Linked DNA regions of Homo sapiens. The protein of the gene in region 1 interacts with the protein of each later gene in a pairwise test. Each region holds a gene or a part of one and is shown in the gene's direction. Other genes may lie near its edges.

Region 1 (4,413 bases):
CAACACTAGCCTGGGCAACATGGCGAAACCCTGTCTCTACAAAAAATACAAAAATTAGTCGGGCATGGTGGCGTGCACCCTTAGTCCCAGCTACTTAGGAGGCTGAGGTGGGAGGATGGCTTGAGCCCAGGAGGTAGAGGTTGCAGTGAGCCAAGATCGTGCCACTGCACTCCAGCCTGGGTGAGAGAGCCAGACCAGACCCTATCTCAAAAAAAAAAAAAAAGAATTTGAGATTGATCCTAAGAGTGCTAGAAAACCATTAAAGGGTTTTAAGCAAAGACAAAACATGGTCTGTTTTACAACTTTTTAAAAAATCATATTTTTATTTATTTTGCAGTAAAGTGGTCAGCTCAGGACCATAGTTTTTTTCCCCCTAATAGTTTTTGGAGAACAGGTGGTGTTTGATTATATGAATAAGTTCTTCATTGATGATTTCTGAGATTTTGGTGCATCCACCACCCGAGCAGTGTACACCGTACCCAATGTGTAGTCTTTTATCTCTCACCCACCTCCCACACTTCCCCCTGAATCCCCAAAGTCCATTGTGTCATTCTTACGACTTTGCATCCTCATAGCTTAGCTCCCACTTATAAGTGAGAACATATCATTTTTGGTTTTCCATTCCTGAGTTACATCACTTAGAATAATGGTCTCCAACCAACTCCATCCAGATTGCTGCAAATGCCATTCTATCTTTTTTTTTTTTTTTTTTTTTTGAGATGGAGTCTCACTTGCTCTGTTGCCCACGCTGGAGTGCAACGGGGCTCAATCTCAGCTCACTGCAACTTCTGCCTCCTGGGTTCAAGTGATTCTCCTGCCTCAGCCTCCCAAGTAGCTGGGACTATAGGTACATGCCACCATGTCCAGCTAATTTTTGTATTTTTATTAGAGATGGGGTTTCACCATGTTGGCCAGGCTGGTCTCAAATTCCTGACCTCAAGTGATCTGTGATCTGCTTGCCTCAGCCTACCAAAGTGCTGGGATTACAGGCGTGAGTCACTGTTCCTGGCCAATATATTGTTCCTTTTTATGGCTGAGTAGTATTCTGTGGTATATATACATACCACATTTTCTTTATCCACTTGTTGATTGATGGGCATTTGGGCTGGTTCCGTATTTTTGCAGTTGTGAATTGTGCTGCTATAAACATGCACATGCAAGTGTCTTTTTCATATAATGACTTCTTTTCCTCTGGGCAGTAACCAGTAGTGGGATTGCTGGAACAAATGGTAGATATACTTTTGGTTCTTTAAGAAATCTCCATATACTGTTTTCCATAGTGGTTGCACTAGTCCACATTCCCACCAGCAATGTAAAAGTGTTCCCTTTTCACCACATCCATGCCAACATCTTTTTTTTTTTTTTAATTTTGAAACAGAGTCTCACTGTGTTGCCCAGGCTGGAGTGCAGTGGCATGATCTCGGCTCACTGCAACCTCCGCCTCCCGGGTTCAAGCGATTCTCCCACCTCAGCCTCCCGAGTAGCTGGGATTACAGGGATTTGCCACCACACCAAGCTAATTTTTGTATTTTTAGTAGAGATGGGGTTTCACCATGTTGGCCAGGCTGGTCTCAAACTCCTGACCTCAGGTGATCTGCCCGCCTTGGCCTCCCAAAGTGCTGGGATTACAGGCATGAGCCACCGCACCCGGCCTATGTTTTTATTTTTTAAATTATGGCCATTCTTGCAGGAGTAAAGTGGTATCACATTGTGGTTTTGATTTGCTGATCATTAGTGATGTTGAGCATTTTTTCATATGTTTGTTGGCCATTTGTATATCTTCTTTTGAGAATTGTCTATTGGTCTTTAGCCCACTTTTTGATGGAATTATTTGTTTTTTTCCTTGGTGATTTGTTTGAATTCCTTGTAGATTCTGGATATTAGTCTGTGGTTGGATCTGTAGTTTGCAAACATTCTCTCCCACTCCGTGGGTTGTCTATTTACTCTGCTGATTATTTCTTTTGCTGTGCAGAAGCTTTTTAGTTTAAGTTCCATCTATTTATCTTTGTTTTTGTTGCATTTGCTTTTGGTTCTTGATCATGAACTCTTTGCCTGAGCCAATGTCTAGAAGGGTTTCTCCAATGTTATCTTCTAGAATTTTTATGGTTTCATGTCTTAGATTTAAGTCTTTGATCCATCTTGAGTTGGTTTTTGTATAAGGTGAGAGATGAAGATTCAGTTTCATTCTTCTACATGTGGCTTGCCAATTATCCCAGCACTGTTTGCTGAATAGGGTGTCCTTTCCCCACATTATGTTTTTGTTTGCTTTGTCAAAGATCAGTTGGCTTTAACTATTTGGCTTTATTTCTGGGTTCTCTATTCTTTCCATTGGTCTATGTACCTATTTTTATGCCAGTATCATGCTGTTTTGGTGACTATAGCCTTGTAAAATAGTTTGAAATTAGGTAATGTGATGCCTCCAGATTTGCTTAGCCTTCCTTTGGGTATGTGGGCTCATTTTTGGTTCCATATGAATTTTAGGATTGTTTTTTCTAGTTCTGTGAAGAATGATGGTGGTATTTTTATGGGAATTGCATTGAATTTATAGATTCTCTTGGCTGTATAGACATTTTCACAATATTGATTCTACCCATTCATGAGCATGAGATGTGTTTCCATTTGTTTGTGTCATCTATGATTTCTTTCAGCAGTGTTTTGGTAGAGACCTTTCACTTCTGTAGTGAGATATATTCCTAAGTATTTTATCTTTTTTTTTTTTTTTGCAGCTATTATAAAAGGGGTTGGGTTCTTGATTTGATTCTCAGCTTGGTTGCTCTTCGTGTATAGCAGTACTACTGGTTTGTGTACATTAATTTTGTACCCTGAAACTTTACTGAATTCATTTACCAGTTCTTGGAGCTTTTTGGATGAGTCTTTAGGGTTTTCTAGGTATACAATCATATTGTCGGCAAACAGCGACAGTTTGACTTTCTCTTTAACAATTTGGATGCTCTTTATTTCATTTGTTTGTTTGTTATAAGAGATGAGGTCTTGCTTTGTCCCCCAGCTTTGACCTCCAGGGCACAAGCGATCCTCCCGCCTCAGCCCCCCACGTAGCTGGGACTACAGATGCGCACCATCATGCCCGGCTAATTTTTGTATTTTTCTGTAGAGACACGGTTTTGCCATGTTGCCCAGGCTGGTCTCAAACTCCTGAGCTCAGGCAATCCACCTGCCTCGGTGTCCCAAAGTGTTGGGAGTACAGGCATGAGCCACTGCACCTGGTCCTGGATGCCCTTTATTTCTTTCTCTTGTGTGATTGCTTTGCCTAGGACTTAAAGTACTATGTTGAATAGAAGTGGTGAAAGTGGGCATCTTTGTCTTGTTCCAGTTCTCAGGGGGAATGCTTTCAACTTTTCCTGTTCAGTATAATATTGGCTGCAGGTTTGTCATAGATGGTTTTTATTACCTTAAGGTATGTCCCTTCTATGCCGATTTTCCTGAGCATTTCAATCATAAATTGATGCTAGATTTTGTCAAATGCTTTTTATGTATCTAATGAAATGATCATATGATTTTTATTTTTAATTCTGTTTATGTGGTATATCACAATTATTGACTTGCATATGTTAAACTATCCCTTCATCCCTGGTATGAAACCCACTTGATCATGGTGGATTATCTTTTTGATATGCTGTTGGATTCAGTTAGCTATTATTTTGTGGAGGATTTTTGCATCTATGTTCATCAGGGATACTGGTCTGTAGTTTTGTTTCTTTGTTATGTTCTTTCCTGGTTTTGGTATTAGGGTGATACTGGCTTCATAGAATGATTTAGGGAGGATTCCCTCTTTCTCTGTCTTTTGGAATAGTGTCCATAGGATTGGTACCAAGTCTTGTTTTTTTTTGGAGATGGAGTCTTGCTCTGTCGACCAGGCTGGAGTACAGTGGCACGATCTCAGCTCACTGCAACCTCCACCTCCCACATTCAAGCGATTCTCCTGCCTTAGCCTCCCGAGTATCTGGAACTACAGGCACCCACCACCACGCCCAGCTAATTTTTTGTATGTTAGTGGAGATGGGGCTTCACCGTTTTGCCCAGACTGGTCTTGAACTCCTGAGCTCAGGCAATCTGCCACCTCAGCCTCCCAAAGTGCTGGGATTACAGGCACGAGCCATCACGCCTGGCCCAATTCTTCTTTAAATGTCTGATAGACTTCAGCTGTGAATCCATCTGGTCCTGGACTTTTTTTTTGTTAGCAATTTTTTTTATTGTCATTTCAATCTCACTGTTGTTATTGGTCTGTTCAGAGTTTCTGTTTCTTCCTGGTTTAATTTAGGAGGGTTGTATATTTTCAGGAACTTATCCATCTCCTCCAGGTTTTCTAGTTTGTGCACATAAGGATGTTCATAGTAGCCTTGAGTTATCTTTTGTATTTCTGTGGTATCGGTTGTAATATCTCCCTTTTTTTTT
Region 2 (4,413 bases), on another chromosome or scaffold:
AAGGAATGTTCTCTCTTTTTTAAAAAAATTCACTATTCAGTCTGTTACTGAGTGGGGTCCCCTAAGGATGTTGAAGTTTTGTTCAAGGGTGCCACAGTTCCTTTGACACATAACTCTTCAGGAATATGTCAGTCAAGATCCTCTGGAAGTTTAAGTGCAGGGGCTGGTGACTGTTCCTGGAGGAAGGAGTGTGACTATTCGAAACAAGGCTCTAGATTGTTCTATGATGCTGGGTAGGGGGCAGGATTATATCTTTGAAAGTAGGTACCAGAGATGGTGGTGTAGGCAGGATTTAGACACAGACAAGTGGGATTCAGCTGGCACTCTTCATTACTTTGTTTTACAAAAAGTGGAAAATGGTTCTGAATCGGGAGGCTGTTTGGCAACTATAAGGAAGTAAGCTATATTGCTGGTCTTGGTGATTTAATTTTTGCTGAGAGAGAGGATATGATCCAGGTTGAGTTAATCCATAAAGTGGACTTGCTCACCAAGTCCACTGTAAGGAGATTCGTACCAGAGTTCTCTCTAGAGCCTTGATACATATGTCACTTCAGGGACAAAGCTAATGGCATGGTATCCTGAACACAGCTATTGCAGTTTGCAAATGGGGTACAGGAGGGGTTAAATTCCTCCTGAGAGACAGGTTATAAAGGAAAGACGGGAGTGTCGGAGAGACATTTCTAACCTGTGAGGAAGGCTTACACCCTTGGAGTAACTGTGGCCTCACTCAGACTGTCCCTTGGAATTTCTGCGAGAAGACCTGGGCCTGCCCCAGGAAAGGGTGGCTGAGTTAGTGGCTGATAGGCAGTCGTTGTGTCGCTGCTCTGAAGGCACCACTGACCATGTTCCAGATGCAATGGGAAATCAAATGATGGAGCAGCTCCTCCCTTGTGGGAGTTTATGCTCCAGTTGAGGAGATAAGCTTGAGAGTGGGAACCATTAGTTCACAGGCCATGATGGAGCTCAGTGTTGATGGCAGACCACAGGTGCTAAGAGAGCAGATATTTGGAAAATATAAACAATAGGCTGCCAAGAAAAACTGCAGCTGGGCCCCTCTCATGAATATCCATATAAAACTGACTTCAGCTGGTTCTTCCCATCCTTCCACATCCAGGCTCTGGTTTTGGGAAAAAAAGCAAAGACATGTCCACAGAGCGGGACTTCTTCATGAGGATGAAGTGCACGGTCACCAACAGAGGCCGTACTGTCAACCTCAAGTCAGCCACCTGGAAGGTAGGGCAACATCAGGCCTGGGTTGGAGTCCCAGGTGTAGGGTAACGGCGGTGCAGGGGATGCCTAAGGCCCTACCCCCACCCCCAGCACTCTCGGCTCCATGTCTGACCCTTCCACGCCTGTCTCAGGTCTTGCACTGCACGGGCCAGGTGAAAGTCTACAACAACTGCCCTCCTCACAATAGTCTGTGTGGCTACAAGGAGCCCCTGCTGTCCTGCCTCATCATCATGTGTGAACCAATCCAGCACCCATCCCACATGGACATCCCCCTGGATAGCAAGACCTTCCTGAGCCGCCACAGCATGGACATGAAGTTCACCTACTGTGATGACAGGTAGGGGGCCATGGGTGTGTATGCTGTGGGCAGAGATGGGTCTTACCTGTGTGTGTGGGGAGTTGTGCCTGTATTAAAGGTGTGGAACTGAACATAGACGTGGTATTGCCGGGTGCATGTTCGTGGACCTGTGCCACTGTTTCATTGCATCAGTGCCCCTCAGAGGTTCCCGGTACTGTATTTGGTGGTCTCCCATTGACAGAGCCTCAGGGTCCATCTGCAGAGCTTTCCTGGTGTGCAACTCTTCTCATCATTGTGGTGTGAACATATTTCTCCATACGTGTATCAGGCTCCTGAGGAAATTCTCAAGGCAGTCTTCTGCCCCAGGAGAAAGAGTCTAGAGACTTCCATCTGTACTCCTGCTTCAGAGGCCAGTAAGGAGCATCAGCTTCTGCCCTGGAGACTGACCCTCTTCCATTACTGACTGAGCCTTTCCCTCCGCCTTGTTCCTTCCTGCATGCAACTCCATTCCGGCCAGTGTCCAGCCATTTTGAAGAAGATGAAGGTAGCTGAGCCAGATGCTAACCCCCCAGTGCCAGGCCCAGTGTCTCTTAGGAGACACAGTAGTGATTAAGAGCATGGGCTTCAGGACTAGATGGCTTAGGTTCAAATTTAGTAATAAATGTTCAGTGTTAGCTCTTATTATCACCTTTATTAGAGTTGTTGAAAGAGTGCCTAAGACTGCTTAGGCATGTCATGCCATCTCGGGTTCTTAGCTCATTTAGAAGATTGAAGCAGGTGGGGAAGAGACTGGGGTTGTCATAGGAGGGAGTATTTAGATACCCTACAGCTCCTAACTCCCCCACCAGCCCTGCCTCTGGGACTGTGGAGCCTGATGATGGGAGGTAGGAGGAGGAAGATGGGGAGAACAGATGCCCGGAGCAATGGCCGGCCCCAGGGAGGGAAGGAAATGCAGAAGACTGGGCCCAGGGTAGGCCTGGCTTGAGTAAGCGCCACTGGGGCTTGCTGAGCAGCACCCCCCGCATGCGCCCTTCCTGGCAGAGATCTCCCTGCCTGACCTCAGCTTTCTGCAGCATCTAGAGCCGCCATGTGTCCCAGGGTGACAGTTCCTGTGGCAGCTCTTTGCCACCCCCAACTCTTTGCCACTCTTCTCTCATCTTCTAGGGTTTCTCCTCAGGAAACCCTCAGATCTCAGTTTCCCCTTCTCCAAAATAGAGATAACACTTTCTAACCTGTTTCATGGGGTCACTGTAAAATGAGATAATGGCTGTGCAAGCACTTTGAGAAGTCCAGACACCACAACACATGTGAGGCTTCTTGTTATTGCTTATATCTTACTTCCTGTCCTTGGCCTCCTCCAAAGCAAAATCTTCCACTAAACTCAAGGAGCTGAAACCACTTCTGAAGGCAGTTAGTGGCTGGGGGGCAGGAAGAGGAAGAATCTGACCCCCAGATCAGCAAGAATCTGCCTTGTCTTCCTCAGCTAGCAGGAAACCATGGAACCCCAGGAAAAAAAGCTCCTGCTCAGCCTCCCCTAGGCCTACCCACTTTTCTCTTATCAGCTGGACATCCCAAGGGCATCTGGTTTCTTCATGGGAGGGACCCTCCTCTCCAGGATGGGGTTTCTCTCCTCTGATTCCAGACCGGCCTGGTGTTGGTTGGTCGCCCCTTCTTAGAGTTGGCCACCACTTGTGGCACAATTTCAGAACTTTTGTAAAAGTATCCTTGAGTCATTCCTGTCCTTCAGTTCTGACCACAGTAGGGCCAGGATTCACAGCCTTTGGAGCTAGTGGGTAGTTATATAAGTAGAAAGAAATGCTCTAACCTCATAGGGAGAAAATGTCATGCATGAAGCCTTCCGTCCTGGAACTTCGACACAGTCACCATTTATTGTAATTGTTAGTGGTGGTGGTGGTGGTGGTGGTAGTGGTGGTGGTGGTGGTGGTGGTGGTGGTGGTGGTGGTGGTGATAATGATGGTGGTTCAAGAAGAAGATTGCACTTTTAGTGACAGGCACTGCAGGAATCCATGTTATAGGTAAGGTTATTTATCAGATGCAGTCTTTGTATTCAGGTGAACATTCTGGGCAGAAGACACAGCTTTGTGTACCTCAGTAGTCTTGTGAGATAACATGGACAATCCCACTGCATAGCCCCTGTGTCACTGGCTTTGAGGTGAAGTGGCTCAAGCCGACGTAGCCATATAGCCTGGGAGCATATATAGTGCTGGGGATGATGAAAGTCAGATACGTGCTTCACCCTGGTGAATGAAGCACATCCGTAACATAACTCCATAAGCACTGGGAAAACCCTACTGTCCTAGAAAATAACTTGGCATCCCTACATAATAGAAAAGAGATTTTTTTTAAGCTTAAGATTTTGATCCTTGTTACAGTGAGAAGAAATCCTCTGGAAGGGGTAATTCAGCCTTATCCTTTATTCATTATCTTGGTTTAAATGAGTTTCAGGTAATTTTCTGAAGGTACTAACCTTTGGACAAAAGAAGAGGGGGAGAAACACAAGGAATTGGATGTCTAAATGTGGCTGGAGAGGAAATGTACATAGAAAGGGGAAAGATGCTGTGCTGACTTCTTAGTTTGGCTCAGGGCTGGTAGCCAGAGTAGCTTCTGGCTTAAAGGAAGTATCAAGCCTCGTGATTTAGGGCTTTGTGACTCATAATGTAGAGGGTGATATTGCTTATAAGTTCTGCGAGACACACTGCATTTTCAGCAAAATCTTGCCTTTCAAGAAACCTAATTACATGGCCCCAAGTCTGAATTCAGTGGTGCTGGAGAGCTGCATGTAGAAGCATTTAAAGACATAGAATGCTGTGTCACACAGAAGTTGTGTTTAACCGATTAGCAGATTAGTTAACAAGGGCACAGAC
Region 3 (4,413 bases), on another chromosome or scaffold:
TATTGGAACTTGAGGACATTAGTTTTCATATTGAAAGGACCCATCGAATATTCAGCACAATGGATGAAAGTGACCCACCCAAAGCACAGTCATCCTGAGATTTCAGAACACTGGAAACAGAGATCCTATGAGTTTTCAGAGAGAGGAAAAAAAAGTCACATACAAAAAGTCAGAATTGCCTTGGACTCTCAACAACACCAGCAGCTAGCAGGCAATGGAGCAATGCCTTCAACATTCTGCAGGAAAACACATTCCAAGCTTTCCTGCAGATTCTCTATTCAGCCGAATTATAAATCCAAGGATGAGGGTAGAATAAAGATATCTACAGGCTGCAAGGTCTCAAAAACACATACCTCCCATGCACCCTTTCTCAGGAAGCTACTGGAAGATGTGTTCCACCAAAATAAGGGAGTAATCAAAAAAGATAAAAACGCGATATAGGAGCACCAGTAGAGGACAGACGTGAAAGGGGTACCCAGGATGGTGATGAAGAAAGATCCCAGGATGACAGCAGTGCACACCAGACAAACCAGCCCAGATTTGAGCAGGTCAGAAGGCTCCAGGGAGATTTCTTTGGGTAGTTTAAATTTTGATAGACTGTCTAATGCTTTTGAACCTCTTAAAAGGAGATTTAAATAGTTGGTGAAGCATTTGGGGGTTGGATTAGTTATAAGAATTATACATAGAAAATTAAACAAAAGGACAAGACATTAACTCCAGGTAAAACAAAGTTGTGAAGGAAGAAAAAAAAATCAGAGTTTACTATTTGGCTTATCTCTGAATAATAAATATTCAGTCAAAATGATTTAAATACTGGCCGGGTGCAGTGGCTCATTCCTGTAATCTCAGCACTTTGGGAGGCCAAAGCGGGCAGATCACATGAGGTCAGGAGTTCGAGATCAGCCTGGCCAATGTGGTGAAACCCTGTCTCTACTAAAATACAAAATTTAGCCGGGCATGGTGGCGGGCACCTGTAACCCCAGCTACTTGCGAGGCTGAGGCAGGAGAATCGCTTGAACCTGGAAGGCTGAGGTTGTAGTAACCTGAGATCGTGCCACTGCACTTCAGCCTGGGTGACAGAGCAAGACTCCCTCTCAAAAAAAAAAAAAAAAAAGATTGAAATACGGATATAACCAACATTATGGTTTAGCTCCTGGAATAATGAGGAGAATGGGAAGTACGTGTTTGTGGTGGAGTCCTAGTAGGAGAGAGAACTAGAAATTCTCATCTTCTTTGGTAGATAGATGATAAATAATGCCCCAAAATGAAAAAAAAAATGGAAACTAGCAATACAAGCATGTTATTTAAGGACATAGAATTAAGTACCAAAATAATCAACTAAGGTAGATAGATGTTCTCATCTCTGGGGAAGGGTAGTACAGGGAGGTGGGTTGCAAGGAGTGCAATTTTTTCTTAACAAAATTTGTAAAACTGTTGGACTGATTTAACTGTGTGTCTATATAACTTTGGTTAAAAAAATAAATATTAAAAACCAAATTGATTAAAGACTTAAGAGCATGAAGTTTGGAAACAGATCTGGGTTTGTTTGAGTCTTTCTTGCCACTTATTAATGGTGTGACCTTGAGCAGTTTATTTAACTACACCTATTTTCTCATCTGAAACATGAGGACATTACTTACACATTTGTTGTAAGGATTAAATTATGTAATTTTTTTTTTTTTTTTTTGAGACGGAGTCTCACTCTGTCGCCCAGGCTGGAGTGCAGAGGCACAATCTCGTCTCACTGCAACCTCCACCTCCTGGGTTCAAGCAATTCTCCTGCCTCAGCCCCCTGAGTAGCTGGGACTACAGGCACGTGCCACCACGCCTGGCTAATTTTTATATTTTTTTAGTAGAGACGGGGTTTCGCCATGTTGGCCAGGCTGGTCTCAAACTTCTGACCTCAGGTGATCCACCCACCTTGGCCTCCCAAAGTCCTGGGTTACAGGTGTGAGCCACCACGCCCAGCCAATGTAATTTATTTATTTATTTATTTATTTTTTTGACACGGAGTTTCACTCTTGTTGCCCAGGCTGGAGTGCAATGTTGCGATCTCGGCTCATCGCAACCTCTGCCTCCCGGGTTCAAGCAATTCTCCTGCCTCAGCCTCCCGAGTAGCTGGGATTACAGGCATGCGCCACCATGCCCGGCTAATTTTGTATTTTTAATAGAGACAGGGTTTATCCATGTTGGTCAGGCTGGTCTTGAACTCCCGACCTCAGGTGATCCTCCCACCTTGGCCTCCCAAAGTTCTGGGATTACAGGCATGAGCCACCACGCCCAGCCTCAATGTAATATTTTTAAGTGCACGTAGTATAGTATGTAGCACATTCAAGCTATTATTTTGGGAGATTACTTCCCTAGTTTAGAGCAAGCAATTAAAATCACAGGAATAGAAAAAGGTAAACTAGCCAGGATCTCCCATTTGTCTAGAGTAGGTGGGATGATTTCTGATTTACAGGGTGATCCCAGAATGGACTATCAGGGTGTTTTGAGCCAGGTTGATTGAGCACTGGGCTCCAACTTATTGTTAATGAGAAATGGCCCAACTTGGACCATGACTTTCCCATTTGCAGGTCTTAGAATAATTTTTTTTTTAATTGAGACAGGGGTTCGCTGTGTTGCCCAGGCTGGCCTCGAGCTCCTGGGTTCAAGTGATCCTCTGCCTCAACTTCCTGAGTAGCTGGGATTACAGGTGCTTGCCACCATCCCCAGCACAGTCTTGGAAGAATTTTAAGAAGCTTACTTCATTGAAAAAAGAGGAAAGTGAAAATGTGCTAAGTATATGAAAGGGAAAGCTTGGATTAAAGATGAGAAACATTTTTAGACTATAACATGTTAAAGAGAGATACTATAGGCTTTATGTTTTAGTCAACTTCTTTTACCTATAGGGACCAATAGATAAAGTCTTAACCTGGAGACAGGGGTTGGATGAAATGGTTTCTAAGAGGTTTATCCAGGTTTTGTGGAAACAATAGGAACAAGACAGATAAAATAAGGGGTCTTATTAAAAAATAATGCTCTAAATATTTGAGATACTAGAACACTATTTTGTTTTCTGTCTCTTTTGATTGGGAGTTTTTATGTGGAAGGAAGCTACTAACTATCCCACCCTATGCAGAGACCCCAGAATCCAACAATAGCGTGTATACTTCCTTCATGAAGTCTCATCGCTGCTATGACCTGATTCCCACAAGCTCCAAATTGGTTGTATTTGATACGTCCCTGCAGGTGGGTGAAATCCTCTTTTCCCTTCCCCCTTTGGAGCCTGTGGTTTAATACCTCTCATCCTATCTCATCCTAAGGGTAATATCCTTATCCTTCTGTGAAGTTAGTCTCATGTTTTACCCAACATGCCCAAACACTGTTCTTTTTTTACAGTCCTGCCCCTGTGGATTTGCCTTTATGATTATTACTGTCTTGGCTACAGGTGAAGAAAGCTTTTTTTGCTTTGGTGACTAACGGTGTACGAGCTGCCCCTTTATGGGATAGTAAGAAGCAAAGTTTTGTGGGTAAGCAAAAGTTTCTGGAACACAATATTATTGGCATCTTGTGCTGGGCAGGGAGACAAGCTTCAGGCAGTGCTGAGGGCTCTGTCTTGTCCTCTAGGCATGCTGACCATCACTGATTTCATCAATATCCTGCACCGCTACTATAAATCAGCCTTGGTAAGGAACCTTAACCCAATGACCAAAATCACTTTCCCTGCCCTAAATCCCTCATTCTCATTTCTTTTTCTCCAAGCAAGCCACGAGGGCTTAAGGAAGCAGAGAGATCAGGTCTCAAATTCTGTTGCTTCTGCTTTCAGGTACAGATCTATGAGCTAGAAGAACACAAGATAGAAACTTGGAGAGGTATGTAGAGAATTGGGGTTATAAAAGGATAAAGGGATGGCGGGTTTCTGGGAAACACTTTTCCATGGTGGTATTTTGTGACCCATCCCTTTTCCCTTCAGAGGTGTATCTCCAGGACTCCTTTAAACCGCTTGTCTGCATTTCTCCTAATGCCAGGTGAGTTCCAGTTACCCATCTGTCCAAAAAGCGGAAGAGATTTTGTCATCAGCCTAGCTAATGCCCTAGACACCCAGGGAAAGGGGAAGAAGAGAGAAAAGACACACACACACACACACACACACACACACACACACACACACACACACAGTCTCTCTCTCTCTCTCATTCTCACTCTCTCTCTCTCTCTCTTTCTCTTTAAGTCTGGCCTGTACACTGCCCCCCTTCCCTAACCATCAGTTTTCCCTGTTGAGCAATACACTGTATGGACCTGTTTAATCACCCCCAGCCCCAGCACTGTGGAACTTATTATCTCCCACCCTCTCACAGCTTGTTTGATGCTGTCTCTTCATTAATTCGGAACAAGATCCACAGGCTGCCAGTTATTGACCCAGAATCAGGC
Region 4 (4,413 bases), on another chromosome or scaffold:
GCACTATTTGGCTTTCCATTGCTGAGTCACTTCTCTTAGAACAATGGCCTCCTAGGCGGCAAGAGCGACACTCCATCTCAAAAATAAAATAATAATAAAACCAAAAAAACCAGGTATTTTATTCTTCTTCTCCTTCTCCTCTTCCTCCTTTCTTTTCTTCCTTCTCCATCCCCCTTCCTCTCTTTCTTCTATCCCCTCCTCCTCCTTCTCCTCCTTCTCCTTCTTTCTCCTTTTCTTCCTTGTCCTATTCTTGATCTTTTCTTTTGAGAGGCAGCTAATCCAAGGTTTGAGAAGATGAAAGAACGTGCCTAGAACCACACAGCTGGGAAGGAGGGAGGCAGGGAGGAGGGGTGGGAATGGGGCAGGAGTCCTTTGCGAATAGATCCCTGGCCTGACCCGGGAAAGCTGTGCTGACCAGGGCTGGGGAACAAGATGACTTTGAGGGGAATCCCTCTGAGATCAGCACTGTGTCTTGACAATCCATGCCAGCCGCCGTCCGGAGTGTTCTGGGGGTGGGGAGAGGGAGGCGGCAACACGCTGAGGCCTCAGGACTGTCTCTTCAGTTTGTCAGGTGTGCCTACGTCATCATCCTCATGGCCATTTACTGGTGCACAGAAGTCATCCCTCTGGCTGTCACCTCTCTCATGCCTGTCTTGCTTTTCCCACTCTTCCAGATTCTGGACTCCAGGCAGGTGAGCAGACCCAAGGGATCCTGGTGACTTTCTGGTTCTCCCCTTCTCTCTTTCTCTAGTCCCCACTGTGAGTCGCACAGGCCTGGGGGTGACCGGAAAACCCTCATTTGTGGATTCTCCCTGGCAGGGAGACACCACTCGAGCCTGCATCCCCACTCCAAGCTGTCCCTGAAGTCAGCATCTGGGGACTGGGTGGCTCTAGTGTGTGGCAAGGGACAGTCCTGATGAGGCCTTCGTGCCACGCTCCAGGTGTGTGTCCAGTACATGAAGGACACCAACATGCTGTTCCTGGGCGGCCTCATCGTGGCCGTGGCTGTGGAGCGCTGGAACCTGCACAAGAGGATCGCCCTGCGCACGCTCCTCTGGGTGGGGGCCAAGCCTGCACGGTAATTACGCCTTCTCTCTCTTGCCACGTGGCTCTGCATGAGCCCCAGGGCTGGAAGGGGGTGGAGGATGGCACAGACCAGGCCATCCACTGGTGAGGGCTGGCCATGGGCTTACCTGGACTTGGCTGGGTGGGGTGCGTTATAGCTTTAGTGGGAGAGACCAGATGCATGCGTGGTGGTGGCACATGGTGAGCAGCAGTAAGTAAGGGTCCTCGAATCCAGAGGAGGTGGGTCAGCAAGAGTCCTTGCAGGCTTGGAAGGCTTTCTGGGGGAGGCAGCTAGCTGCAGGGTTCCACCGGGAACAAATTGGATAGAGGCTGGATCAAGCTGTGTCTGATAGGATAAGGGAAGCAGGCCAGAAGTGGCTCAACTACCCAGCTCATGGGGAAGCAGAAAGGTCCTCTCTCCAAGCTGGAGCATCTATTCCCACTGCAAAGAAGCTTCTTATCTTCCCCGATATCACTCAGTACCCCAGCTTCTCTCTCCATTTCCAGGATCTCTCCTGCCAATCTAGCTAGCCATTTCCAGCTAAGCCATGGAGTCAATATAATCATAATCATAACCATAATCAATCATGATCATAATGGGTATATTGAGTGTCTACAAGGCCCCAGGCATGATACCAGGAGCTTATGAATTGCCTCATTTAATTCTTACCACAACTCTGAGAGCTGAGTATTCTTACTGCCCACATTCTGTGGATGAGGGATTGGAGGCAGAGAGGGATAAAGTGATTTGCTCATGGACACACGGGGATTGGACCCAGCTTCTCTGATAAGGCCTGTGTCCTCTCTAATCAGAAACTCAGGGCATATCTTCCTTTTGAGACAATGTGTCCCCTCAATGATGGCACGTCCTTGGCCCAGCCATCAGGAGTCAGCTGCTGGTCAGTTTACGGTAAATTCCTCCTGAGGCGCCCCTGTGTCAGGGGCTGTGCTAGACCCTGAGCACACACAGACGCTAGCCTGCCCTGCAGGCAACCCATGCCCGGGGCTCCCTTGGTGCCTCAGATTCCCCTGAGCAGGGGACTTTGTGGCTCTCTGATCTGTTACACATCCTGGCATTGATTCCTTCCAGTAATTGCTTTAGCATCAAATCAAAAGCCATCATATTTTCTAGAAATGAGAGACCCCAGGAAAGTGGACCTCAGGGCCCTCAGAATTCTTCTGCTTGGCTCCCTTGAGTGGCCAGCTTGGGTGGGAGGCCACTCCAGTGGGTTTCATTCTGCAGCATGCTGGAGAGCTTCCACTTCCAAACCCAAGTTCACACATGCTTCTGTATCCTTCCTGCCACCTTGCTCCTCTGAGTATGGTCTCCGGTTGTCCAAGGCACTGCCTGTCCTGGGAGTCACCTGTATGTGAGGCACCCTTGGTGCCTTGAGATATCATGTAGAAGCCTTGGTTCTTCTCAGACAACTCCATTCATGCAAACTCTCCCCCTCCTCCTAGCCTGGGTCCCGGGCTTTGTTTTTTTTTGGGTCCATAATGTCTGCCTGTGTGGACAGCAGCTTGGGCCCTGGTGCAGAACAGCTCCTAGGTCCCTTCTTCAGGCTCCTACCCCTGCCCCTGCTCCTACCCCCAGGTGAATTAGGAGCCCTGAGGAGGAGCCTGGCTGCAGCGAGGCCCACAGACTGAGAGTAGCTGAGCTCCTTCTGTCCCTAGCCTTGGACAGCTGGGGCATGTAGAGCCACAGAGCAGAGTCAGGCCCTGCCCTGCTCACAGCCCAAGGAGAGAGCAGACATGGAAACAGGTGCTTTGAACCCAGCACAGCGATGATTAGAGTAGGGGGAAGGATTGAGAAGGGTCAGGCCAGCCCCACCTGGTGCACACACTGAGAGCGTGGTCCCAGAGGAGGGATGTTGTTTGAGCAGGCTCTGAAGGACCATGAGGAGTCTTCCTGATAGACAGCAGAGAAGGGAGCAGGGGTTACAAGCAAAGGGAGTGTTTCTTCTGAATACTGTTTGTGTGATAGCTCCACTGCAGCATGGAGGGGTCAAAGTGTATGTGCGGGGCGGAGGGGAGATGGCAGGGTTGGAGTGGCAGCCGGGAGAATAGTCACACTTTCCCAAGCTCCCTCCCCAGCTCACCCTACCCCTACTCTGCTTAGCCCTTCTGAACTTCTGAGAGGTGCAACAGAGTTTGGGGGTGGGTGGGAATTTCCTAGCCAGAAGTGGGAAGCTGGGGCTGCCTGCACATAGGGGTATTCCAGCACACCCTAGGGCAAGCTCATATTGAGTTGGCACCATCTGGATGCCTGGGCTTCCCCTGCTAGATGGTGGGGCAGGGGTGCTCCTTAGAACCACGACTGGATCTGAGGCCTCTTGGTAACCCCAGAAGCAAGCAGAGTAGACATCAGTCATGGGTGTGGGAGAGGCAGGAGGGAGAGAGGAATGGAGGAAGCAAAGAAGGGAAGGAGGGAGGGAGGGGAGGCTCTAAAACCGTCATCCCTATTCCAATATCTGATCTTGAATTGGCCTCAACACCTGTGCATCCCTGCAGGGGTGGACCCAGTCCCCAGTTGCTTCCCAGGGAGTACGGGGGTGGGGTGGGGATTCTCTGGCTTTCCTCCCTGCCCCTCCTCTGCAGGCTGATGCTGGGCTTCATGGGCGTCACAGCCCTCCTGTCCATGTGGATCAGTAACACGGCAACCACGGCCATGATGGTGCCCATCGTGGAGGCCATATTGCAGCAGATGGAAGCCACAAGCGCAGCCACCGAGGCCGGCCTGGAGCTGGTGGACAAGGGCAAGGCCAAGGAGCTGCCAGGTGAGCCCCTGGCCAGGGCACTGCCAGGCCACAACAGCAGCCTTCCCCTCCCTCTGCTGGCAAATGCTTTGGCCACCTCCTTCTCCCTGTCTGCTTCCCGGAGCCCTCCTTTAAACACGCATAGAGAAAAAAAAATAGAAAATACTGTTGTCCTAAGTTTTAGGAGGGGATTATTGCACACAACTTAGATCCTTTAATAGAGCTTTGAACAAAGTCTCACCCTCAGTTCCCATCAGTTGCAGAAATCAGTGTGTTCACCTGATTATTCATTTGGGCATCTTTCGAGCACTTAGGGATGCCCCTCACTCCTTGCTACTCCTGCTCATCCTCAAGGAGGCCTTTTCTGACCTCCTCGAGCAGCTCAAATCCTTCCACTCTCTGCTCCCATAGGTCTGGGGCTTGGCGTCCCATGCTTGCTTCCCTGCTAGGTGCGAAGCTCAGGGAAGACGAGTCAGCATCTACCTTGCCGTCTGCCGTGTTCCCTTACCATCCCCAGCCCAGTGCAGTAGAGTCAGGGTCTGTGGCTGACGGCCTGATTGCCAGACCCTGGGCAAGGTCCTGGGGCTTACAG
Region 5 (4,413 bases), on another chromosome or scaffold:
CATCACTACTAAGGAGTCTAGGTACAACCCTGGTGTTCAACCCTGGGTAGTTTTGCCTTTCTAAAAGCTGTAACTGTCTTTCTCTGACTAAATTGTCCTACATAGATCATTTCACTTTTTTCTTTCTTTTTGGCTAAGTTTTTATAGGGGCTGGAAAGTTTATAATTAAGGTGACATCATGTCATTTATTGTCCAAACTAGGATGTCTTTGCCTATGAAATGTCTCCTTCTCCATATCCCCCTCCTCAAAGACTTACTGTTTCATATCAGGAAAGGGTACTCTTACAGGCAAAAATCTGTATTTACTTGTTTCGGAGTGTTATCCTCCTTTTTTCCCCCATTTCTTCCACTGAGCAGTCACTGCATGGTTTCATCACAGTGTCCTCTTATATCTTGTCTCCAGCTGCTGTTCAGCAGTCTGTCACCCATCAGCCCCCATCATCCACTATACCTTCTTCAGATCTCCTCTGGTTCGTATACTTCCCCAGTGCACCCACTTTGTGTCCACGTAAATATACTTCAGCTTCTTCAGAAACCTTCTCTAACATTCCTAACCCTCAGTAAACTTCCCTTTCTGAACTGCATTTGCACTTGGTATTATACAGCTTAGCACTTTAGAGTGATAGCACTTTAGAATTTGGAAGTTCTCTGACATTAGTTTTCAACCCCTAAATTAGCACATCAGAATAACTTATTAAAATACAGATTATGAGAAATCACCCTAGTCTTCTAAGTTAGAACTTCTGCATGATTCTAATGCTTGATCAGGTTTGAGAACCAGTGTTCTGAACCAGTTTCTTGTTTTAGAAATGCAGAAACAAAGGAGTTAAATGAATTATGCATTAATAGCCAAACAAATAACGTTCATTTACTAAATATGTTTGTTTACTAAATACTAAATACGTTAGTGGGAGAGGAATATACGAACCCAAGACATCTAGTTTCTAGTGCTATCCCCATAAGTCACATTAGCCCAAATAATATTTGTTCCCATTTAGCTATATTATTGATTCAGTTGTTAATTTCTAAAGTTTTCCTTGTAAGGCTGGGCATGGTGACTCCTGCCTGTAATCCCAACACTTAGGGAGGACAAGGTCAGAGGATCACTTTAGCTCTGGAGTTTAATACCAGCGTGGACAACATAGCAAGTCCTTGTCTCTACAAAACATAAACAAAATTAGCTGGGCATAGTGGTGCATGCCTGTATTCCCAGCTATTTAGGAAGCTGAAATGGGAGAATCTGGGGCTGAGGCTGCAGTGAGCTGAGATCACACCACTCCACTCTAGCCTGGGTGACAGAGCAAGACCCTGTCTGAAAAAAAAGTTTTCCTTGTAAATACATGCTTTGAATGGTACTCTAAATAGCTATTAAGAATCTGAAACTCATTAGTCATTTTTGTTTTTTTCAAGTGCTACAGATGAAGCATGGCGACTATTATCCACTTACCTGGAGAGGTACAAAGTCCAGAATAACTTGTATCACCACTGTGTAATCAACAAGCTCTTGTCTCATGGAGTGCCTCTGCCTAATTGGCTTATAAACAGTTACAAGGTAAACGGATTATAACTTGTACAGAGTAAGAACCCACTCTTTATCATTCTGGATAACTTCATGAGATGATTAAAAATATGGACTGATTGCAGTGGCTCATACCTGTCATGCCCGCACATTGGTAGGCCAACAGGGGAGGATGGCTTGAGCCCAGGAGTTTGAGACCAGCTTGGGCAACACAGGGAGACCCCATCTCTATTTAAATTTAAAAATATATAAAGAAAAAGAAAAAGATGGGGTGATAACTTATGGGAACATATTGACTTACGTACTTTGGGAAGCTTTTCATCATAGCTAAAACCATAAGAACAATTCAAATTCATTTCCACAGTACTACTGTGTATTTAGATTTGAAGTTTCATAGGTTAGTAATTAGGTTAATGACTCCTATTATATTCACTGAACAATGAGTTTATATTTAGAACAATGAGCATATGCATGACACAGGATTTACTCTTCATACCTCAAAAAAGTCACAGGAGTCGGTGGAGTACTTTTCAAATAATATAACACTATGGCTGGTCTGAGTGCCGTGTTGTTTACAACTAATTGAGCACAACCAGTTTCCGATTGGTTCCTTCTCCACTCCCACTGTTTCACCTATTAAAAATCAAAAACGGGTTCTTAGACTGTCTGCATCAGAATTATTCAGATGGCAGTCTTCTTCAAAATACAGATTCCTCATCCTAGACTTACAGAATCAGATTATCTCAGGCTAGGAGCCAGAAATCTACATTTTAAGAAGCTCCTAATTTGATTTTGATGCATGCTAAAGTTTGAGAACTTCTGCATCTGAACCACCGTTAGTAGGATAAGGAAAGAGAAAATCTAAAGCTTAAAATCAGGAAAGTTTTTTTTGGTTTTTTTTGTTTTGTTTTGTTTTGTTTTTTTTGTTTTTGTTTTTGTTTTTTTTTTAAGGTAGAAAGGAGGCCGGGCACGGTGACTCACGCCTGTAAACCCAGCGCTTTGGGAGGCCAAGGCAGGCAGATCACCTGAGGTCAGGAATTCGAGACCAGCCTGGCCAACATGGTGAAACCCCATCTCCACTAAAAATACAAAAATTATCTGGATGTGATGGTGCGTGCCTGTAATCTCAGCTACTCTGGAGGCAGAGGTTACAGTGATCTGAGGTTGCACCACTGCCCCCAAGCCTGGGCGACAGAGCAAGACTCTGTCTCAAAAAAAATAAATAAATAGGAAAGTAGGGAAGCCAGCTAAGATGGTAAAGGTAAGATTGTGATCAAATGGGAATATAGAAAGCATGCTTAATTAATAGAGCTCTTCCAAATAGAGACTTCAGATTTAAAGCTGGTGATTCTTTGAACTTCTTTTGCATTTGTCATTCATATATTTCTTATTATGTGAATATATTGTCACTTTAGTGTTCAGGAAAAGTTTGTTGACTTTACAACTGTGGAAACTGAAGTGGAGAGAAGTTAAAATATGTCTTAGGTCATAAAACAGGGGAAGAAGGCTATTTAACAGATAAGGGCCTCCCAAACTGCCTAGAGGTAACGGCTCTTAGGGATTTAACTTTTTTTTTTTCCTAACTCCCCAGATTTGTTATCAGCTCTTATCCTAAGATACAGATGAGTAAACCAAGCCACTGGTTTAATTATATTGAGAAATACAAATGTTAGGGAATCAGCCACTCAACATTCTTTGGTCAGTACTCAAGTAGGAGGGAAATAGGTACATATTCTTAATCACTGACTTTTCACAGAAGGTTGATGCTGCTGAATTGCTTCGTTTATACTTAAACTATGACCTTTTAGAAGAAGCTGTGGATTTGGTGTCAGAATATGTGGATGCTGTATTGGGAAAAGGACATCAATACTTCGGAATTGAGGTAGGCATATACAAATGGTCCCCAATTTACAATGGTTTGACTTACGATTTTTCAACTTTACAGTGGTTTGAAAGTGATGAACATTTATGAGAAACCATACTTTAAAATACTGATGGCCGGGCACAGTGACTCATGCCTATAATCCCAGCACTTTGGGAGGCCGAGGCAGACAGATCACCTGAGGTCAGGAGTTCGAAACCAGTTTGGCCAACATGGCAAAGCCCCGTCTCTACTAAAAATACAGAAATTAGCCAGATGCAGTGGCACGTACCTGTAATCCCAGCTACTCAGGAGGCTGAGGCAGGAGAATCGCTTGAACCTGGGAGGCAGAGGTTGCAGTGAGCCGAGATCATGCCACTGCACTCCAGCCTGGGCAACAGAGCGAGACTCCATCTCAAAAATAAATAAATAAATAAATAATAAATAAATAAAATACTCATACAACCGTTCAGTTTTTCAGTTGCAGTACAGTATTCAATAAATTACACAAGATATTCAACAGTGTATTATAAAGTAGGCTTTCTGTTAGATGATTTTGCCCAACTTTATAGGTTAACGTTAAGTGTCCTGAGCATGGTTAAGTAGGCTAGGCTAAGCCGTGATGTTCATTAGGTTAGATGTATTATATGTATTTTCAACCTATGATATTTTCAACTGATAGTGGGTTTATTGGAAAACAAACCCACCATAAGTTGAGGAACATCGGTATAGGCGCATATATATATATATATATATATATATATATATATATATATATATATATATATATTTTTTTTTTTTTTTAACTGAGTTTTGCTCTGTTGCCCAAGCTGGAGTGCAGTGATGCAGCCTCCACTTACTCCCTCACTGCAGCCTCCGCCTCCCGGGTTCAAGTGATTCTCCTGCCTCAGCCTCCTGAGTAGCTGGGATTACAGGCACCTGCCACCACATCCAGCTAATTTTTTAATATTTTTGGTAGAGATGGGGCTTCACCATGTTGGCCAGGCTGGTCTCGGAACTCCTAACCTCAAGT
Region 6 (4,413 bases), on another chromosome or scaffold:
TGACAGCCGGCTCAGCACAGGCCTCGCCAAGCACCTGCTCAGTGGTTTGGGGGACCGACTGTGCCGCCTGCTGCGGAGGGAGCGGGAGGCCCTGGCTTGGGCCCAGCGGGAAGGTGAACAGGACCTCCTGGGTCTGCGTGGGGTCTCTGTGTGGGGAGCCCCAGGTGTCCCTCCCCTGACCCCACCCACACTGCCAGCTCCTAGACCTAAGGCAACCTCAGAAGAGCCCCTGGCCTGGGTGGGGACATCAGGAAGGTGTCAAACTGGGTACAGCCCAGTTCTCTGGGAGTTTTTGGGCTTGTTGGGAAAACAAGAATGAGTGCCAAGTATCTGCAAGGCACTGGGAGGTGGGGGAGCTCCTGAGGGCTTGGGGGTCAGGCGAAGCTCCCGGGCCTGGAGGGCTGACAGGACCTGGGCTAAGGTCCCCTCTGGCTGCAGGTGCTCCCTTCGGTCGCCCTTCCGCAGCACAGAGAGTTCCTCATGACCAAAGGCTGCTGGTCAGTCTTTGGGTGGAGACCCCCGGGGCTCCCTCTTGCCCCAGACAGGCCAGGCCCCTTGGTGCATCTTCAGCAGGCTCCCTGTCAGCTCCTGCCACTCCCAGCCTGGGTTCCCAGCACACACGCCATCCATCCTTCCCTTCCCGGCTCCCTGGAGCTTGTCATCCCCTCGGGCCTTGGCACTGGCTGTCCCTGTGTCTGGAATGCCCTGCTCCTCCCTTTCTACCTGGTGAATGAAAACTTACTCATCCTCTGGGGCCCACTTGGGAAGCTCTCCCGCATTCCCATCCTCACCCTTCCCTGGCATTTTCCATCTCCAGCACCCGCCTCGTGGTGCCACAGTCATCGCTGTATTTATGGGTCCATCTCCCTACCTGGAATGTGTGCACTGCGAGGCAGGGGCAAGTCCTAACCACCTCTGAGGCCCCTGCACCCAAAGGCAAGGCGTTCGTTGAATTGTACTCAGCGACACCTTTTCCACCTACCAACAATGGCTTAGTCTCATACTTGGTTCTTAGAAAACCCCACTCCTGGCTGGGCGCGGTGGCTCATGCCTGTAATCCCAGCACTTTGGGAGGCCGAGGTGGGAGGATCACTTGAGTCCAGGAGATGGAGGCTGCAGTGAGCTGTAATCACACCACTGTACTCCAGCCTAGATGACAGAGTGAGACCCTATCTCAAAACAACGACAACAAAGTCTCCTGGAGGAAATGGCACCTGAGCATGGTTACCACTTCTGGTAGCACCTAGGGCTTGGAGGGAAGGAGGTGGAGGAAAGAATGTGCTAGAAGTGGTGTGGATTAATAATTCAGGGCCAGTGGGGAAGTCCCTGGGGGCAGAGCTGGGTGTGGGGCAGGAATGGTGGAGCTGAGGCCTCCAATGTCCCTGGAAGGCTTTGCTGGAGAGGATAGTTTCTACAAGGAGGCTCTCGACAGGGCTGTGGAGTAAGCAGGGGGTAGCTGTCGAGGGGCCTGTCTCCCTTCCCTGGGGGGGCCCTCTCCATGGAAGCTGCTCCTTGCTTCTCCTGCCCCTCCTTGGATCCTTCCCACGTGAAGCCTTCCATTGGGGCCTGTTGCCTTCACCCTCTGACCCTGTTCTCTCCGTGGTCAGCAGGCCAAGGGCCAGCCGTGACAGAGGACAGCCCAGGCATTCCACGCTGCTGCAGCCGTTGCCACCATGGACTCTTCAACACCCACTGGCGATGTCCCCGCTGCAGCCACCGGCTGTGTGTGGCCTGTGGTCGTGTGGCAGGCACTGGGCGGGCCAGGGAGAAAGCAGGTAGGAGAGGGGCTGGGGGTGGGAGGGCGGGATGGAGCCCTCAGGGGGACTGCTGCAAGCCTGTGGTCATTCGTTGGCTGCCTCTCCCCAAAAAGCCCCCTACCCACTGCACAGCCCCAGCCTCAGCCACCATGGCTCAATGCCCTTAGAGCAGACTTCCCCTCTCTGCAGATCAGAGGACCATGCCTGCGTCCTTGACCACCCTTAAACAAAGGCGAGTGTGCCCACTCGGTGTCTCCCACTCTGTTCAGCTGGCACCTTTTAAAACCTGCTGTAACACTGTGAAGTGGGTATTACTGCTTTTGTTTTCCAGATAAGAAAAACTCAGAGGATAAGCGACTCGTCCAAGGTCACACAGTTAGTAACGTGTTGCAGCCAGGACTTAGACTCAGGTCTTCTGATTTCATCCTGTTCTTTTCATAGTTCTCAGCTTTCTTTCCCTTGGCTCAAGTTGGCCACGGGAGAGCTTGAAATTTCCCTGTGTTCCAGTAGGGATGACCAGAAAGAGCTCCAGGGTCAGACACGTTTTAGAACATTGTCTTCCACATGGTTAGCCTAAGGACCTGCAAAGCCTCTCAGCACGTTAAAGTCTGTAGCATTCTACAAGCAAAGAATGCTGTGTCTCTATGTGACCCAGGTTTCCCAGAAAGCACGAGTTTTGTGGACTATTGAGTCCCCTGGTTTAGGTATCATGTCCTGACCTTCTCTGACCTTAACCTGTGATTACCTTGATTTCTGGACCTGCAGCTTTTCCCTTCCTGCCCCACAGGCTTTCAGGAGCAGTCCGCGGAGGAGTGCACGCAGGAGGCCGGGCACGCTGCCTGTTCCCTGATGCTGACCCAGTTTGTCTCCAGCCAGGGTGAGCCATCTTGGAGGGGTGGGGCGTGCAGAGGTTGGGTCCTGAGGGAGACCAGCTTCCCGTCTGATTGTCCCTCCCCCCAGTGCCATGCCCTTCTGCTTGGCAAGGCCAAGCTGCCCGGGACTGCCTGTTGGTCTACACTCACCACCAACCTCCCTCTCCTGCCCACCCCCACCCCCAGCTTTGGCAGAGCTGAGCACTGCAATGCACCAGGTCTGGGTCAAGTTTGATATCCGGGGGCACTGCCCCTGCCAAGCTGATGCCCGGGTATGGGCCCCCGGGGATGCAGGCCAGCAGGTAAGACCCAGGGCATGTCACCGGTTGGGTATCGTGCCTGCAAATGGCTGACCTTTGCAGGGGTTTGGCCCCCCCTTTTCTTGGTGGGGATGAAGAGAGAGAAGCCTGTGGGATCAGGCTAATTCCCACCTTGGGGATCAGGAGCCATGCATGATCTCCAGCGCTGGCCCCTCCCACCTCCATGCCCTGGAGGTCCTCACCCCCTGCCTTCCTGGAGCATATCCACCCTACTCTGTGCATATTCTTGTTCAGCGCTTGCCACATCATGCTAGAGGTGCTTGTTGGTATGGCCAGGTCCCCAGGCCATGGTTCCTTCAGGTGGAGCGTTGGCCCGCCTTCTCAGTATCCCGGCACCTAACACCTAGCAGGCGCTCAATGTGCATTCTGCAAAGTTTTTTGAAGTTCATGTTCTTATTATAAAAGTCATCCATTCAAAATAAATAGTTCATTGAATGCATTTTGGGTTCCAGACACTGTGTTATATACCCATTGTGGAAAATTTGGAAAATACAGACAAGTATAAGGAAGAAAATGACGATGACCTTAATGCTACCATTAGTTTTGACATATTTATTTCCAGCCATTTGTCTATTTTAGTAGACTATAGACCCTATCATAGGTAGAAGTCCATGAGCAACTTTTTTCCACCTAATGTTATATCCTATGGCATTTTGCTCCTATAAACACGATTTTAGGACTGACAAGAGTCCATTGTTCATTCTTGTGGGTTCTGTTGAATTGTGTCTGCCATTTTAAAATCTCTGGTTGGATTGGGGGGGTGGTGGATGGGTTTAACAGAAGGAATCAACACAGAAAACGCCCCCAACTCCACAACCTTCCTGCAATGGCGACACCCACAGGACCAAGAGCATCAAAGAGGGTGAGCGGCTCCTCTTGCCCCTCGGCCTGTGCAAGAGGGAGGCTGGGCCAGAGTTTGAGGCAGGAGGGGACAGTCGCGGAAGTCTCCGGGGACTTTAGCAACTCCCCCCCACCCCCAATAATCTCCACTACTCCCCTCAGGACATGCCTCCAAACACCTTCTTTGGCCAGACCCCCCTCTGAACCCCTCTTTTTAGAGACTCTGGAGCTGCCTGCAGGAAAAGCAGTAGAGCGGGGAGACCCAGAGCAGAGCTGAGGTGGGGGATGCTGGCTGGGGAGAGTGGGCTCAGCCAGGAAGAGAGGGAAGAGCAGCATGGGCAAGAGGGCCTCGAGGGGAAGAGGAGGGACCAAACGCGAAGCCCCCCACCATCTTCCTCCCTGACAGAGACCCCCGATTCCGCTGAGACCCCAGCAGAGGACCGTGCTGGCCGAGGGCCCCTGCCTTGTCCTTCTCTCTGCGAACTGCTGGCTTCTACCGCGGTCAAACTCTGCTTGGGCCATGAGCGAATACACATGGCCTTCGCCCCCGTCACTCCGGCCCTGCCCAGTGTGAGTGAGGGCACGGAGGGAGGGCTAGGAGCCAGGGGACCAGAGGCTGGGCCT
Region 7 (4,413 bases), on another chromosome or scaffold:
TTCCTACACATCCCTTGACCTGTAAGAGTAACCACCCCACCAGCTCAAGCTATTATTATCTCTTAGCCGCTCACCGTGGTGACTGCTTTACATTGGGTGTCTCATCTTACTTCCACTGCAGCCCCGGATATTATCATCCTCAAACCCATTTTGCAGATGGGAAAGCTGAAGCTTAAAAAAGCTGAATTCCTTTCTCTGGCCACACAGCAAGTGTGTCTGATTCCAGAGCCCTGCTTTTAAATGTTACCCTCAAATATTCCTCAAATGTATGTTCATGTATACGTATATACACACTTGTGCACATACACACATACTTTTTAGGTATATGTTTACAAATCAAACTACACAGGCTGCTTTGTAATCTCATTTTTCCACCTAACAACATACCCTGGACATCTTTCCATGCAGTTTAAAAAAGCACTCTAAATAGCTATTATATTAATGGCTGTGTTTTTCTCCACTGTGTGGATCTGTCATAATTTATTTAACCATCCCCCTATTCCTGGCCATTGAGGTTGTATCCGGCATGAGATTTGGGAGAATAATCGTGCAAGGAACACCTTGTAGACACAGAAATTTGCTCTGAGTCCGTAATTTTCTTGATATTAGTGCCTACAAAGGTGATTGTTCAGATGAAATGCACACATTTAGGGAGCTCGCTCTCCTGTGGCCTAGAACACTGGGCTGGCCGGAGAATAGAGGAAGAGAGACTGGGATGTAGGTGGGACATTTTTCCAGAGCTGGGCTTTAATTCTGCCAACTCCCTGCCTCCACCTGCCTCCATCCCAAGAATACGGTGGCATGGGATCTGCTTAGTGTCTATAATGTCCCTCAGCCACATGCTGTCCCCACAGATCCCTTGCCGGCCCATGAGACTGGACTTTCCCTCTGCCACCAGGGCCCCTGGGCCTGCTCTGCACAACCACAGTTATTCTCTTTCCAAAGAAAGCGCCCCCACCTAGATACCAGAGAGGTGCCCCTCCTGGAGGATGGGAAACAGGGAGGAACCATCCAGGCACCAGAACATACCAAAACATGGTTATCTCCTGTGAGAGACTCCTGTCTAGGAGCAAGGGCCAGCTCTTAAAGCCACACTCACCAGACAGAGCCTGTGGGGTGGCAGGGGTAAGGACAAGAACCTTGATTCAGGCGAGAAAGGTCCCCAGCCTCTGCTTCCCTCCAAACTTCCTTTCTTGCCCAAGAAATGGTAATGGTGGCCGGGCCAGTGGCTCAAGCCTGTGATCCCAGCACTTTGGGAGGCCGAGACAGGCGGATCACGAGGTCAGGAGATTGAGACCATCCTGGCTAACACGGTGAAACCCCATCTCTACTAAAACTACAAAAAATTAGCCAGGCATGGCGGTGGGTGCCTGTAGTCCCAGCTACTCAGGAGGCTGAGGCAGGAGAACGACGTGAACCCGGGAGGTGCAGCTTGCAGTGAGCCGAGATCGTGCCACTGCACTCCAGCCTGGGCGACAGAGTAAGACTCCGTCTCAAAAAAAAAAAAATGGTAGCTGGTTTCCTTCTTCCACCTTTCTTCCACCTTCCTATCCTCTCATTGGTGACCAAAGCCTTTAAAAATATATTTATTTTTAATAGGTAACCTTGATACCTAAAAGGGCATCTGATGAGATGCCTCCCTCCCTCTGGACCCCTGGAGCCACTGTCACCCATTTGTCACGCACTCTTGCATAGACAAGGACATCCATGGGCCTCTGGCCTCATTTTCTTATTACACAGCTTGTACCATACTTTGAATAGTTTTGTGCACCTCTTTTCTCTTAGAAGTTTGTCTCATCCTTCTAAACCATTGCATGGCACACCACACATTGCATGGATGGGCCATAGTGAATGAGCCTCCGTGGGTGGATATGCAGCTTATGTCCAATTGTTTGCTATTACAAACAGCTCCGCAAGGCATCCCTTGCACCATCATGGGTGTGTACCTGTGTAGCTATCAGGATATTTTAGAATGAATGCCTCAGAGTAGATTGTTAGGTCAAAGAGTGTTTGCATCTGCACTTTCTTCTTTTTTTTTTTTTTTTTTTTTGCATCTGCACTTTCAAAAGATAATTGCCAGGCTGGGCATGATGGCTCATGCCTATAATCCCAACACTTTGGGAAGCCAAGGCAGGTGGATCAACTGAGGTCAGGAGTTCGAGACCAGCCTGACCAACATGGTGAAACCCTGTCTCTACTAAAAATACAAAAATTAGCTGGGCATGATGGCACTTACCTGTAATCCCAGCCACTCAGGAGCTGAGGCAAGAGAATCACTTGAACCCAGGAGGCAGACGTTTCAGTGAACTGAGATTGCGCCATTGCACCCTAGCCTGGATGACAGAGCAAGACTCCGTCTAAAAAAAGGAAAAAAAAAAAAAGATAATTGCCATATCGCCCTTGCTCCTATAATGCCCTTGTTAGTGGTGGTGTTTTCATCTTTTTGCCCCTCTGCTGGGTGAAACATGATGTCTCACAGTGGATTTCAACTGCATTTCTTTTACAAGTTAGATAAAGACTTGGAAGTTAGTCTGTGTGCTCCCAAAGGCCTGGCTGGACAAACAGCTTTGAGAGCTGCTTCCCTTCTGAACAATTTTACTTGTAGCTGGTTCAAGGAAGCTTTGGCCCCTCTGTCATTTGTTGATGACCCGCCCTACATGTAGCCTTGCAGGAGACTAATTTTAGGAGTTCATCAAGAACATATGCTAAGGGGTTTCGTCCACCAGCAGCAGCCAGCCCACTCGGGACCATCCCCTCCTGCCACCGCCTCACCGGCAGGTTCCATTAGTAAAAGTGAACTCATAACCCCAAGCATATTAAACCTCTTTATCTCAGTTCTTCTGCTAGAACAAATGTCCCGCACTGTTGCCTTTGTTCAAATCCCCTTATGCAGAACAGATTATTTCAAAAGAAGGGGAAAACCTGCCTAAACATTTACCCTCATTTTCCAAAAATGTCAAATCTGTCCAAGGAGTTGACAAATGAAGTTGTGTTTTTTCATTCCAGATAGAAGCCCATTTTCCTTTTGGTTTTTAAAATTAAATTCAGTTGCTTTTCATTCCTGTGATCTCCACGGTTTGGAGTGTGTGTGTATATACAGATGCATTTCGTAGAGGCTTCTCATCGAAACAGGGTGACGTGCACCTGCCGCAATGCCATCTGACAACAGTGCCATATATTTTATAAAAGGCAGTGAAAACTGTAGCACTTGATATTTCTGCATCTTTTTTTCTTTTTGCTTTCTTACCAAATAAAAATTATTTTGCTGGAAGTCATGAATTAAATATGTTAGGCATTACACGATAAAGAAACATGTTTGATGTTCCTCACTTCCCGGAAAGATGAGAGCCTCTGAGTCCAGCTGATTGGAATGTGCTTGTTTTCAGTACACATCAGGGAGGCTGGCTTTTCTTTCTGTCTTTTCCACCCCTGCCTCACATGCCGATGCTGGGTGCCTCGTGTCTCTGTGGCCGAAGGTCACTAAATCCCCTGTATTTCCATTCCAGGTCTTTCCATCCCCCCCAGTCCCACAGACCACCCAGGGCTTCATCGGCTGGAGATCTGCAGTGCCAGGCCTGAACAAGTGCCTAGAGCTCGACGATGCGATCAGAAGCTGCAAAGGTGCTTTTGCACGAGAGCTGTGCTGGCCCAAGCAGGGCGTGCACTGAATCCAGACGGAGTTCTGCCCAGGGGTGCTGCATATCGGTCACCAGGCACCCAGGGCCATGCCAGGGAAAGGAAGAGCTCCCCTGAATCCCGAGGACACAGTCCCCTGCGTACTTGCTCATGGGATGTTGCAAAGAACACAAAGTGTGCCTTAGACATTCTCAAGTCATCAGCGTCACCCTTCCAGAATGTTCACGTCCACACCCATTCTTGGCTAATGTAATGAATAAGGCTTCTCTCATTTGTTTTTGATACCTTGGGAATTTCTATGCAGGGCTTTAAAAAAAAATAAGTGATTCAATTTTAAAAATATTTGTCTAGGTCCTTCAATGTAGCTTTTCATTGCACCTATCATCATCCTTATTTATAACGAACTTGTTGATCAGGTGTTTCTCTATCCAGATATCCCTGGGCCTGTTTTTCAGGAAGAAGAATACACTTAGAGAATCCCTTGGCTCTCCTTGCTCAAGATATTTGCAATAAGTTAACAGCTTTAAAGGCAGAAATGAGCCCAAGATTTGCCACTGGGCGTAGATTCACAGGAGAAAAATGGGTTTCCCAATCCCTCTAAGAAAACCACTGCTGCTGACCTGTCCCAGCCACCCCCAGTCCAGCACAGAAAGCTCCAGGCTGCCCAAATGGGTCATTTTCCTTCCCCGAGTACATCAACCCCACAGTTACCATTTTCTTTCTAAACACTGTCTAGCTGTCTCTCTTCTCCTACTCCTACAAATGGGGGCTGGGGGC

The links.
Region 2: the proteins of KLHL20 (region 1) and EPAS1 interact in a two-hybrid assay, tested with the Homo sapiens proteins (one study listed by BioGRID).
Region 3: the proteins of KLHL20 (region 1) and PRKAG1 interact in a two-hybrid assay, tested with the Homo sapiens proteins (one large-scale study listed by BioGRID).
Region 4: the proteins of KLHL20 (region 1) and SLC13A5 interact in a two-hybrid assay, tested with the Homo sapiens proteins (one large-scale study listed by BioGRID).
Region 5: the proteins of KLHL20 (region 1) and NUP160 interact in a two-hybrid assay, tested with the Homo sapiens proteins (one large-scale study listed by BioGRID).
Region 6: the proteins of KLHL20 (region 1) and HR interact in a two-hybrid assay, tested with the Homo sapiens proteins (one large-scale study listed by BioGRID).
Region 7: the proteins of KLHL20 (region 1) and CIMIP1 interact in a two-hybrid assay, tested with the Homo sapiens proteins (one large-scale study listed by BioGRID).

Annotation. Positions count from the first base shown.
Region 1 is NC_000001.11:173,735,243-173,739,655, forward strand, and holds part of KLHL20 (kelch-like protein 20), read left to right. Parts: intron 1-4,413. UniProt on the Homo sapiens protein: Substrate-specific adapter of a BCR (BTB-CUL3-RBX1) E3 ubiquitin-protein ligase complex involved in interferon response and anterograde Golgi to endosome transport.
Region 2 is NC_000002.12:46,359,524-46,363,936, forward strand, and holds part of EPAS1 (endothelial PAS domain-containing protein 1), read left to right. Parts: intron 1-1,114; coding exon 1,115-1,233; intron 1,234-1,361; coding exon 1,362-1,567; intron 1,568-4,413.
Region 3 is NC_000012.12:49,004,561-49,008,973, reverse strand, and holds part of PRKAG1 (5'-AMP-activated protein kinase subunit gamma-1), read left to right. Parts: intron 1-374; exon of another isoform or gene 375-548; intron 549-3,121; coding exon 3,122-3,231; intron 3,232-3,381; exon of another isoform or gene 3,382-3,430; coding exon 3,431-3,512; intron 3,513-3,582; coding exon of another isoform or gene 3,583-3,609; coding exon 3,610-3,668; intron 3,669-3,808; coding exon 3,809-3,854; intron 3,855-3,955; coding exon 3,956-4,010; intron 4,011-4,340; coding exon 4,341-4,413. UniProt on the Homo sapiens protein: AMP/ATP-binding subunit of AMP-activated protein kinase (AMPK), an energy sensor protein kinase that plays a key role in regulating cellular energy metabolism.
Region 4 is NC_000017.11:6,703,307-6,707,719, reverse strand, and holds part of SLC13A5 (Na(+)/citrate cotransporter), read left to right. Parts: intron 1-563; coding exon 564-692; intron 693-941; coding exon 942-1,078; intron 1,079-3,663; coding exon 3,664-3,842; intron 3,843-4,413. UniProt on the Homo sapiens protein: High-affinity sodium/citrate cotransporter that mediates the entry of citrate into cells, which is a critical participant of biochemical pathways.
Region 5 is NC_000011.10:47,782,061-47,786,473, reverse strand, and holds part of NUP160 (nuclear pore complex protein Nup160), read left to right. Parts: coding exon 1-21; intron 22-1,410; coding exon 1,411-1,552; intron 1,553-3,275; coding exon 3,276-3,401; intron 3,402-4,413. UniProt on the Homo sapiens protein: Functions as a component of the nuclear pore complex (NPC). Involved in poly(A)+ RNA transport.
Region 6 is NC_000008.11:22,121,011-22,125,423, reverse strand, and holds part of HR (lysine-specific demethylase hairless), read left to right. Parts: coding exon 1-113; intron 114-1,610; coding exon 1,611-1,775; intron 1,776-2,544; coding exon 2,545-2,634; intron 2,635-2,815; coding exon 2,816-2,931; intron 2,932-3,729; coding exon 3,730-3,811; intron 3,812-4,195; coding exon 4,196-4,359; intron 4,360-4,413. UniProt on the Homo sapiens protein: Histone demethylase that specifically demethylates both mono- and dimethylated 'Lys-9' of histone H3. May act as a transcription regulator controlling hair biology (via targeting of collagens), neural activity, and cell cycle.
Region 7 is NC_000020.11:58,157,155-58,161,567, forward strand, and holds the end of CIMIP1 (ciliary microtubule inner protein 1), read left to right. Parts: intron 1-2,236; exon of another isoform or gene 2,237-2,277; intron 2,278-3,506; coding exon 3,507-3,668; 3' UTR 3,669-3,996; downstream 3,997-4,413.